2 separate regions of the Homo sapiens genome follow, and region 2 is linked to region 1. Evidence: fine-mapped expression QTL. A gene starts in region 1. The other region holds a variant in brackets. All regions are shown on one strand. Distances are from middle to middle.

What was found. PIP is the estimated chance that this variant, and not a neighbour inherited with it, causes the effect. A credible set is the group of variants that fine-mapping cannot tell apart.
Region 2: its variant is the best candidate, but not a certain one, in a credible set for the expression of UCN2 in esophagus mucosa (GTEx, PIP 0.60).

The regions. Positions count from the first base shown.
Region 1 is chr3:48,561,295-48,566,665 of GRCh38, reverse strand. UCN2 (urocortin 2) reads left to right here and starts at 2,885. Exons shown (of 2, transcript NM_033199.4): 1 at 2,885-2,963; 2 at 3,530-4,948. The coding sequence starts at 3,542. The coding sequence ends at 3,880. It overlaps COL7A1 (collagen type VII alpha 1 chain), which reads left to right. Exons shown (of 119, transcript NM_000094.4): 112 at 1-6; 113 at 103-156; 114 at 351-399; 115 at 998-1,030; 116 at 1,170-1,256; 117 at 1,465-1,557; 118 at 1,686-1,883; 119 at 2,244-2,593. The coding sequence ends at 2,260. It also overlaps a transcript of PFKFB4 not described here.
Region 2 is chr3:48,489,991-48,495,361 of GRCh38, reverse strand. The region is part of intron 2 of SHISA5 (shisa family member 5); the gene reads left to right. Among named protein-coding and RNA genes, the nearest start is that of SHISA5, 11 kb to the left of the region's middle. The variant T/C (reference allele first, on the strand shown) is at 2,477.

The sequences.
Region 1 (5,371 bases):
GAGCAGGTGAGTAGGGATTCCAAGGCTTGGGTCAGAGATCGGGGTGACTTCTGTTGTCCCTGAGGTCAGAGGTCACAGCCTGGTCCCATCTGTTGCACATAGGGGCGGCCAGGGCCTGCCGGTCCTCGAGGCGAGAAGGGAGAAGCTGCACTGACGGTGAGTGTGGGCCTGGATGGGCCTGGGAGGGCCTGGGTGGGCCTGGGTGGGCTGGGGCCCTACCTCCCTCACCCAGCACCCTGACCCCTGGGCCCTGGCTCCATGCAGTCTCACCATAGTCCCTGTATTATGTGCCCTATGTCCTTCCTGTGGGCCATGGGTTCTTTATGGTCCCTGTGGTCTTCTGCTCCCAGGAGGATGACATCCGGGGCTTTGTGCGCCAAGAGATGAGTCAGCACTGTGGTGAGTGGTGCCCAGCCCGCAGTCTCCCACTCCACCCCAGCACCCTAGGCAAGGGCAGGCAGGCCCCTAGAACTTACAGGGCAAGCAGTCAAGAAGATGGGGGGATGGATGGATACACAGAAGGACACATGTGCTGCAGGACTGACACATGACATGTGTCCCCAGTGGAGGGAGACACACAGGCAGATGAGGATTGCCATGCAGTGCTCTCAGATGTCCAGCTTGGCTGTGTGGGGAGTGGGATGATGGTGGGAGCAGAGCTGGTCCCCTTGGGCCTGACCTGGACCCGGTGGGAGGGGCATCAGAGTGAAGCTGTCTCTTCCCGTCTCTGTCTGCACCACCTGCCTGTTTCTGTGTCTGGCCTGCTTCTGTCTCTTGCCTTTTGTTGGCCTGTTCCCAACTTCCCTCTCCTCTGCCTTCTTCTCTTTTTCCATCTCTCTATCTACCTCCCACCCTCTCTCTTCCTCTCTCTCCTGTTACCCTCTCCTGCTATCTCTTTGTGTATCTCTACCCCTCTGCCTGTGTGTCTCTGTCTGTCTCTCCATCTTCCCATCCTTCTCTCTGTCATTGTCTCTCTATCCCTCTCTGCCCCCTCTAGCCTGCCAGGGCCAGTTCATCGCATCTGGATCACGTGAGTAGTTTTCTACTCCCAGAACTTTCTTCACCCCAGGCCCTGCCCTGCCTATCAACTGGGGTCCTCTCAGGGGGGTTGGCTGGGATGGCTGCCCATGGTGACTTCAGGGCCCTGAGGCCCCTGCTCTTGGCTCCAGGACCCCTCCCTAGTTATGCTGCAGACACTGCCGGCTCCCAGCTCCATGCTGTGCCTGTGCTCCGCGTCTCTCATGCAGAGGAGGAAGGTGAGGACAGCTGAACCCGTGGGGCAGCTATGGGTGGGGCCGAGACACGCACATGGGTGTCCATGAATGCAGGGCACACGCCAAGCACGTAGGGTCTGCATGCAGGGCACACGCATGGGCACTGTGTGCACACAGTGGAAATCAGTGCTGCCCACCTTGCCCCGGGGCCAGCAGCCACTGCTCCCAGCACACCCTGCCCTACCTGCAGAGCGGGTACCCCCTGAGGATGATGAGTACTCTGAATACTCCGAGTATTCTGTGGAGGAGTACCAGGACCCTGAAGCTCCTTGGGATAGTGATGGTGAGAATGGGGGGCTGCCAGCGGGGTCTGGGGAGGGGCAGGCAGGGCTGAGCCCTGCTGACCTCCCCCTGACCTTTCAACCCTCTCTGATTCCCACAAACCCTGCTGACTTGACCCCATTGGCCCAGACCCCTGTTCCCTGCCACTGGATGAGGGCTCCTGCACTGCCTACACCCTGCGCTGGTACCATCGGGCTGTGACAGGCAGCACAGAGGCCTGTCACCCTTTTGTCTATGGTGGCTGTGGAGGGAATGCCAACCGTTTTGGGACCCGTGAGGCCTGCGAGCGCCGCTGCCCACCCCGGGTGGTCCAGAGCCAGGGGACAGGTATGGGCTGAGCCCCCACCGTGGGGAACTGGGCACTGAGCCTGCCTGGATCGGGTTCTGGGGGAGGAGTCCTTGGGCCAGGGTTCCAGGTCAGGGTCCTGGAGGAGACGCTCCCTCGCAGTAGGGGACCTGGGGCAGACGCCCAGACCAAAGAGCTGAATATAGAGCCCCAGCCGTGGAGCCCCCAGTAGGGTCCCCTTCCATGTTCCCTCCTTTAAAGACCTAAGTATGGACCCCTCTGAGGTCAGAGCCCCCACTTCCTGTTGTAGCCTCCGCTCCCTCCCCTTGGCGGTGCCTCTGCCTGAGCGTCTCCGGGGAAGGTCAGATGGCTGACGACCGTTTCCAACCTGTCCTCACCAGGTACTGCCCAGGACTGAGGCCCAGATAATGAGCTGAGATTCAGCATCCCCTGGAGGAGTCGGGGTCTCAGCAGAACCCCACTGTCCCTCCCCTTGGTGCTAGAGGCTTGTGTGCACGTGAGCGTGCGTGTGCACGTCCGTTATTTCAGTGACTTGGTCCCGTGGGTCTAGCCTTCCCCCCTGTGGACAAACCCCCATTGTGGCTCCTGCCACCCTGGCAGATGACTCACTGTGGGGGGGTGGCTGTGGGCAGTGAGCGGATGTGACTGGCGTCTGACCCGCCCCTTGACCCAAGCCTGTGATGACATGGTGCTGATTCTGGGGGGCATTAAAGCTGCTGTTTTAAAAGGCTCCTGTTGTGACTGTTTGGGAAGATGGGGGGTTTCAAGGGGGAAGGTTTTCCTTGGGGGGTTGGTATTATTCTGCATGGGTACAGAGTCCCTCTGCCCAGTCCTGGTCACTGTCTTGTGATTCTCAGTCCCCAACTTGTCCCCGGAAAAGAGTAGATAGGGTGGGGGCTAAGGACACCCCCGGGAGGGATGAGTCATAGGTGGGGGGCTGCCTCATGCCAGGAAGCATGTACCAGCTCCCACCCCAGGGGGCTGAGGGAGATAAATGGGCCCTGAAGCGGGGTAGAGGGTCAGACCACAGGACAGTAGTGCCTGGCCCCAGCCCCAGGCAGCCACAGCAGGCTGCCTTACCCCAGAAGCAGCTGGTGGCGGTAGGACTGGGTTGGGTCGGGATGGGAAGGGTCTTGGAGGTTGAGTGGATGTGGGGTTTGGCTTTATGGAGGGCTTGGACCCAGGGGACTCTGGGATCTCTGGCTGCTTTTCTGCCTCTGAGATCCGATTCCTGCCCTTCTGTTTCCTGGATCAGCTGCAAGCTCTCCTGCTGAGAACCGCCTGCCCTCCTGTGGACTCTGTGTTTCTGTCTGAATCTTTCTTTCCATCATGCTGTCTGTCTCTGGGATGGTTTCTGTCTGTCTTTTTCTTCTAGTCTCCATTTTGCTCTGCCTCCATCTCCTTCATCTCCCTCTCTTGCTGTCCCTCTGTCTCTGGATTTCTTTGTTTCTTTTTTTCTGTCTTGCTTTCTGCCTCTTTGTCTCATTCTGGCTCTCCTCTTGTCTCCCCTTCTCTGTCTCTGGCCTGGCCTGGCCTCTCTAACCCCTTTCTCGGTGTCTTCCTCTCTCTCCATCCCCCGCTCTGTCACTCTGCCCTTGCCATCTGTCTCTGTCCATGGACCCCAGTTGACCAGAGCCCCTGCCCTGAGCCCATTTTCTCCTTGCAGCCTGACCTCACGATGACCAGGTGTGCTCTGCTGTTGCTGATGGTCCTGATGTTGGGCAGAGTCCTGGTTGTCCCAGTGACCCCTATCCCAACCTTCCAGCTCCGCCCTCAGAATTCTCCCCAGACCACTCCCCGACCTGCGGCCTCAGAGAGCCCCTCAGCTGCTCCCACATGGCCGTGGGCTGCCCAGAGCCACTGCAGCCCCACCCGCCACCCTGGCTCGCGCATTGTCCTATCGCTGGATGTCCCCATCGGCCTCTTGCAGATCTTACTGGAGCAAGCCCGGGCCAGGGCTGCCAGGGAGCAGGCCACCACCAACGCCCGCATCCTGGCCCGTGTCGGCCACTGCTGAGCCTGAGAGAGGGGGTCACAGTGATAGGGCCACCCTGGATGGGAAGACCTGGAGGGCAGCCACACAGCTGGACGGATGCTGCCACATCTGGGCATACAGTGTCTGGACGCTGCCACATCTGGGCATACAGTGTCTGGACACTGCCACATGGAGCCACTGTCATGCAGGTCATATCAGATCTGAGTGCCCCACAGAGTCACAGTGTGTCTGGACAGCCTGGACATTGGACATTGCTAAGTTGGGTCACTGCCACATGGAGTCTTGCCATGCCTGTGTGCCCCACAGACCTAATATATGTCCGGACAGCTTGGATGCTGCCACGTAAGGTCACTGCTGTGGCGAGTCTTGCTATGTCTGGGTGCCCCATAGTCACAGAACACCTGGACACCGCCACATGCAGTCATCATCATGTTACTTTCAGGAGCCTCAACACGAGAGCTCAACACTGCCTCCGACCAGTCCCTCTGAGGCCCACAGGTCTGTCATCCCATAGGCCACCACACAGAGAAATGCTGGCTGAGGGTCACTTGCTTGCTCTGTGCCCCATGAGGCAGCACCTGCCCCAGATGGACGGGGCTGTGAGGGGTGTCTCCAGGCACAAAGGCCCGAACACAGGAAGCCTGTGACCATGGCAGCCTTGTCTTATGGGCGCATATGTGCGTGTGTGGCTGAGTCTCTGACAGCTGTGAGTGTGTGTGAGCAGGGTAAGGGTACGTGAGGGGTCTGAGAGGAGTGGGTGCTTGTCCCCCAAACCTGCATGAAGCAAGAACAACTCCTGGCCAGGCCCTGTCCTCCCCACGTACCCCTGCATCCCCAGCCTCGACCCAGGGACATGCAGGGCTCACAGGAGACAGGGCTCAGGCTGCCGGAGCTCCAACCAAACTCTGTCCCACTTCACGCACGGACTGTCCTGGGCAAAGGTGTTCACCTTTCCGAGCCTCGGTTTCCTTATCTGTAAAGCAAAGCGACACCAGCAAGCCTGTGAGCATTGTGTATATAGCAGACATGGAGGTCCTGCAGCAGGAGGTGCTCAATAAACACAAAGCGACTGAAGGATGGGACCAGCAAGCCTGTGAGCATTGTGTATGTAGCAGACATGGAGGTCCTGCAGCAGGAGGTGCTCAATAAACACAAAGCGACTGAAGGATGGGATGTGCGAGAATCCCAGTGGTGTGCACCCAGGCCGCGACACATGGTGGGTGAGTCATACCTGGCTTCTCTGCCTTCCTCCCTAGCTCCCCGGTTAACTGACCTGGTCCCTTGGTTTGGAAGGACTAGGTTTTGCCTGATTTCACAGCCCAACTCCATTGCTGGGCCAGAGACAGAACTGACTTTCCAGGCAGTGTGGACGGGCTTGCCCGCAGAGGGGGCAGGCACTCTGGGCTGTGCAGACAACTCTAGGTGGACATGAAGGCAGACGCTGGGTGGCATGGGCAGCTCTGGCGGGAGAGGGAGACTGTACTGGCCACAGCGTGGCCGGCTGACTGGAGT
Region 2 (5,371 bases), 71 kb after region 1:
GAGACTCCCTCTCTATTAAAAAAAAAAAAAAAGCGTCGTAAAAGGAACATATTTTTTCTGGGTATGTATCTAGGAGTGGAATTACTAAGTTATTATGTGAATGTGTTCAGTTTAGGCAGATAACTTCCAAACAGCTTTCCAACATGTTATAAATGTGCCATTTGTACTCCCACCAGCCATATGTGAGGGTTCCAGTTTGCTCTACATCCTCTTCAAAACTTGGATTATAAATCTTTTTCAAAATATTGAGATATAGGCTAGGTGGAGTGGCTCACACCTGTAATCCCAGCACTTTGGGAGGCTGAGGTAGGAGGATCGCTTGAGCCCAGGAGTTGGAGGCTAGCCTGGGCAACATAGCAAGACTCAGTCTCTAAAAAGAAAAAAAAATAGATATATAATTACATACAGTAAAATGCACAGATCTTTCATGTTTCAGTTTGATGAGTTTTAACAGATGTATACATTTCATGTATACAACATGCTAGACCAGATATAAATCATTGTCATGGAAAAAAGTAGGAGGGTCCCCCAAAAATTAAAAATAGAGCTACCATGTGCATATGATCCAGCCATCCCATCACTGCGTATATATCCAAAGGATATGAAATCCATACCCCAAAGAGATACCTGCTCTCCCTTGTTCATTGCAGCATTATCACAATAGCCAAAGTATGCAATCAATCTACCTGTCCATCAGGATAAATGGATAAAGAAAATGTGGTATATGTACACAGCGAAATACTATTCAGCCTTAAAAAGAAGGAAATTGGCTGGGTGCAGTGGCTCACGCCTGTAATCCCAGCACTTTGGGAGGCCAAGGGGGGGTGGATCACGAGGTCAGGAGATCGAGACCATCCTGGCCAACATGGTGAAACCACGTTTCTACTAAAAATACAAAAATTAGCTGGTGGTGGTGCACGCCTGTAATCCCAGCTACTCTGGAGGCTGAGGCAGGAGAATCCCTTGAACTCGGGAGGCGGAGGTTGCAGTGAGCTGAGATCATGCCACTGCACTCTAGCCTGGCAACAGAGTGAAACTCCATCTCAAAAAAAAAAAAAAAAAGGAAATCCAGAAATCCTGTCATTTATGATGACATGGATGTACCTGGAGAACATTATGTTAAGTGAAATAAGCTAGGCGCAGAAAGACAAATACAGCACCATCTCACTTATATGTGGAGTGTCAAAGTCAAACTCATAGAAACAGAATAAAATGGTGGTAACCGGAGACTAGGAGGTGGCAGGATTAGGGAGATGTTGGTCAAAGGACACAAAATTTCACTTAGGAGGAGTAAGTTCAAGAGATCTATTGTACATCATAATGGTGACTATAGTTTATAATAATATGTTGTATACTTGAAAATTGCTAAGGAAGTAGATTTTGAGTGTTCTCACCACAAAAAAAGGTAAGTACGTGAAGTAATGCATATGCTAATTACCTCAATTTAGCCATTCAATATATACATATTTCAAAACATCATTTTTGTACGCTATAAATATATACAATTTTTGTCAGTTAAAAAAGAAATCGGATGGGTGCAGTGGCTGATGCCTGTAATCCCAGCACTTTGGGAGGCTGAGGCGGGTGGATCACATGAGGTCAGGAGTTCAAGACCAGTCTGGGCAACATGGTGAAACCCCATCTCTACTAAAAAATAGAAAAATTAGCCGGGTGTGGTGGCACACACCTGTAATCCCAGCTACTCAGGAGGCTGAGGCAGGGAGAATCGCTTGAACCCGGTGGGCAGAGGTTGCAGTGAGCCGAGATTGTGCCACTGCACTTCAGCCGGGATGACAGAGCCGCCTCTGTCTCAAAAAAAAAAAAAAAAAAAAAAAAAAGAATAGATCATGGCCATTTCTAAGGAATTTATTTATTTATTTAATTTATTAATTTATTCATTTATTTTCCAAGATAGGGTCTCACTCTGTCACCCAGGCTGTAGTGCAGTGGCACAGTCTCAGCTCACTGCAGCGGCACAGTCTCAGCTCACTGCAGCCTCTACCTCCTGGGCTCAAGCCATCCTCTGACCTCAGCCTACCGAGCAGCTGGGATTACAGGCATGCGCCATGGTGCATGGCTAATTTTTGTTTATTTTTGTAGAGAAGGGGTCTTACTATGTTGCCCAGGCTGGTCCTGACCTCCTGGGCTCAAGTGATCAGCCCACCTTGGCCTCCCAAAGTGCTAGGATTACAGGTGTAAGCCACTGCACCCAGCCGAAAGTTTAATTTTAGCAATTTTGGTGGTTGTGTTGTAATACCCCATTGTGCCGTTTTCAAGATTTCAGTACATTTTATGGCCCAGCATATCCTTAGTGAAACATGAGGAAAGTTTCATGTGTTTTAGTCCATTCAGACTGCTTTTAGGAAATACTGTAGATTGTGTGGCTTAAACAACAAACATTTCTCACAGTCCTAGAGGCAGGAGGTTTAAGATCAGGGTGCTGGCATGATCCTGGTGAGGGCCTTCTTCCTGGTTA[T/C]GTCCTCACGTGGCCTTTCCCTGTTTGTGGAGGCTGAAAACAACTCCATCTTGGATGCTAATCTGCCCATGTTGACTTCTGATTAACCCCAGTTCTGGGAATGCCTCTAATGCCTTTCACATACTTACCATAAATCCTGCCCTTAGACCAATTCCCTGTGGTTTATAAGCCCAGGATCTGAGGTTAAGAAGTCCCTATTAAATGTTTCTGAGAAACTGGATTTGTCAGCCTCTTTCTTCAGCTTCTCAGCTTCCTTGGGCGAAGGCTTGTACAGACCTGCTCACCTCCGAACATTGGTGCATGCATGCAGAGAGAAATCGAATTTCTCTTCCTCTTTTTATAAGGACACTAATCCCATCCTGGCAGCTTCACCCTCATGATCTCATCTAAACCTAATTACCTCTTTTTTTTCTTATGAGACGGAGTCTCGCTCTTTCACCCAGGCGGGACTGCAGTGGCCCGATCTCGGCTCACTGCAAGCTCCGCCTCCCGGGTTCACGCCATTCTCCTGCCTCAGCCTCTTGAGTAGCTGGGACTACAGGCGCCCGCCACCGCGCCCGGCTAATTTTTTGTATTTTTAGTAGAGACAGGGTTTCACCGTGTTTGCCAGGATGGTCTTGATCTCCTGACCTCGTGATCCGCCCGCCTCGGCCTCCCAAAGTGCTGGGATTACAGGCGTGAGCCACCGCGCCTGGCCTTTTTTTTTTTTTTTTTTTTTTTTTTTTTTTTTTTTTTGAGATGGAGTCTTGCTCTGTTCCCGGCTGGAGTGGAGTGGCACAATCTCAGCTCACTGCAACCTCCACACCCTGAGCAGTCTTAACTCATTCCAGCATCAACTACTCTTAACTCTAAAGTGCAAAGCCTTGTTCACATATTATCAAAATCAGATATGAATGAGACCATAGGTACATTTCATCCTGAGGCAAAATTTATCTCCAGTTGTGAAACCTGTGAAGCCAGAAATGCATTTGTGGGACAGGCAAAGGATAGCCACCCCTATTACAAAAGGGAGAGAAATCAGTAGGAAGTGTAGCCAGGGCAACATGGTGAGACCCCATCTCTACTAAAAAAATCCCCAGGCATGATGGTGCGCGTCTGTGGTCCCAACTATTAGGAGGCTGAGGTGGGAGAATTGCTTGAGCTTGGTGGGGGCAGAGGTTGCAGTGAGCTGAGATCGTGCCACTCTACTCCAGCCTGGGACAGAGTGAGACCCTTGTTTCAAACAAAACAAAACAAAAACAAACAAACGAAAACAGCAGGAAGTGATAGGTGCTGTCAACGAAAAGCCAAACTCTAAAATATTTGAAGAGATTTATTCTGAGCCGAATATGAGTGACCATCGCCCGTGAAACAGCCCTCAGGAGGTCTTGAGAACATGTGCCCAAGGTGGTCCGGGCACCGCTTGGTTTCATACATTTTAGAGAGGCATGAGACATCAATCAAATACATTAAAGAAATACATTGGTTAGGCCGGGCGCGGTGCCTCACACCTGTAATCCCAGCACTTTGGGAGGCCGAGGCGGGCGGATCACGAGGTCAGGAGATCGAGACCATCCTGGCTAACACGGTGAAACCCCGTCTCTACTAAAAATACAAAAAATTAGCTGGGCATGGTGACGGGCGCTTGTAGCCCCAGCTACTCGGGAGGCTGAGGCAGGAGAATGGCGTGAACCTGGGAGGCAGAGCTTGCAGTGAGCAGAGATCACGCCACTGCACTCCAGCCTGGGCGACAGAGCGAGACTCCATCTCAAAAAAAAAGAAGAAATACATTGGTTTGGTCCAGAAAGGTGGGACGACTCAAAGGGCGGGGGGTTGGGAGGGTGGGGAGCTTCTAGCCTATAAGTGAATTTAAACGTTTTCTGTTTGACAATTGGTTGAGTTTGTCTAAAGACAAAATTGATTGATAGAAAAGGAATGTTCAGATTAAGATAAAGATTGTGGAGCCCAAAGTTCTTCTGAAGTCTTCTAGTGGCTGCCCTTAGAGACAATAGATGACAAATGTTTCCTATTCAGATTTTAGTTACTCTCTTTAGGATTGGGAGGGTCTGGAAGGAAAAGATCTAGCTATGTTAATAGAGATTCTTTACAGATGCACATTTTCTCCCATAGAGAACAGCTTTGCAAGGTCATTTCAAAATATGGCAAAGAAACATGTTTTGGGGTAAAATGTTTTGATTTTTTTTCCTTGTCTCTTAATGTTATGCCAGAGTCAGGTTGGAAAGTAAATCATGATATATAGGGTTAAATAAAACCCATTTGATGAGAATTTATGATTTGTAGGGCATGACTCCCCAGGCCCCTTAGATAGGAATTTGGGCGAGATAAAAAAAATCAGAGTTTAGTTCTCAGTGCCAGGCAATTCTAAATTCTAGCAAGACAAACTCCAGTAGACTTTAAGCCTTGGGAATAATCCTCTTTGGCTGGACACTCTGCCCTCTGGACCCACTGTGATGGGGGCTGCACCCCCATGGCTCTGCTGGGTGGTGGTCCTGGCCTTCAAAACTGAGGTGGCCGGCCAGGTGCAGTGGCTCATACCTGTAATCCTACCACTTCGGGAAGCCGAGGTGGGCGGATCACCTGAGGTCAGGAGTTTGAGACCAGCCTGACCAACATAGAGAAACCCCATCTGTATTAATAATGCAAAAATAGCTGGGTATGGTGGCGCATGCCTGTAATCCCAGCTACTTGGGAGGCTGAGGCAGGAGAATCGCTTGAACCCAGGAGGTGGAGGTTGTAGTGAACCGAGATTGCGCCATTGCACTCCAGCCAGCCTGGGTGGCAAGAGCAAAACTCCGTCTCAGAAAAAAAGCAACAACAACAAAAAAAACGGAGGTGGCGGCAACCTGGTTCCGGCCTGTGCACTCTGGGCCTGTGGTGGGAGTGGCAGCCTTGATG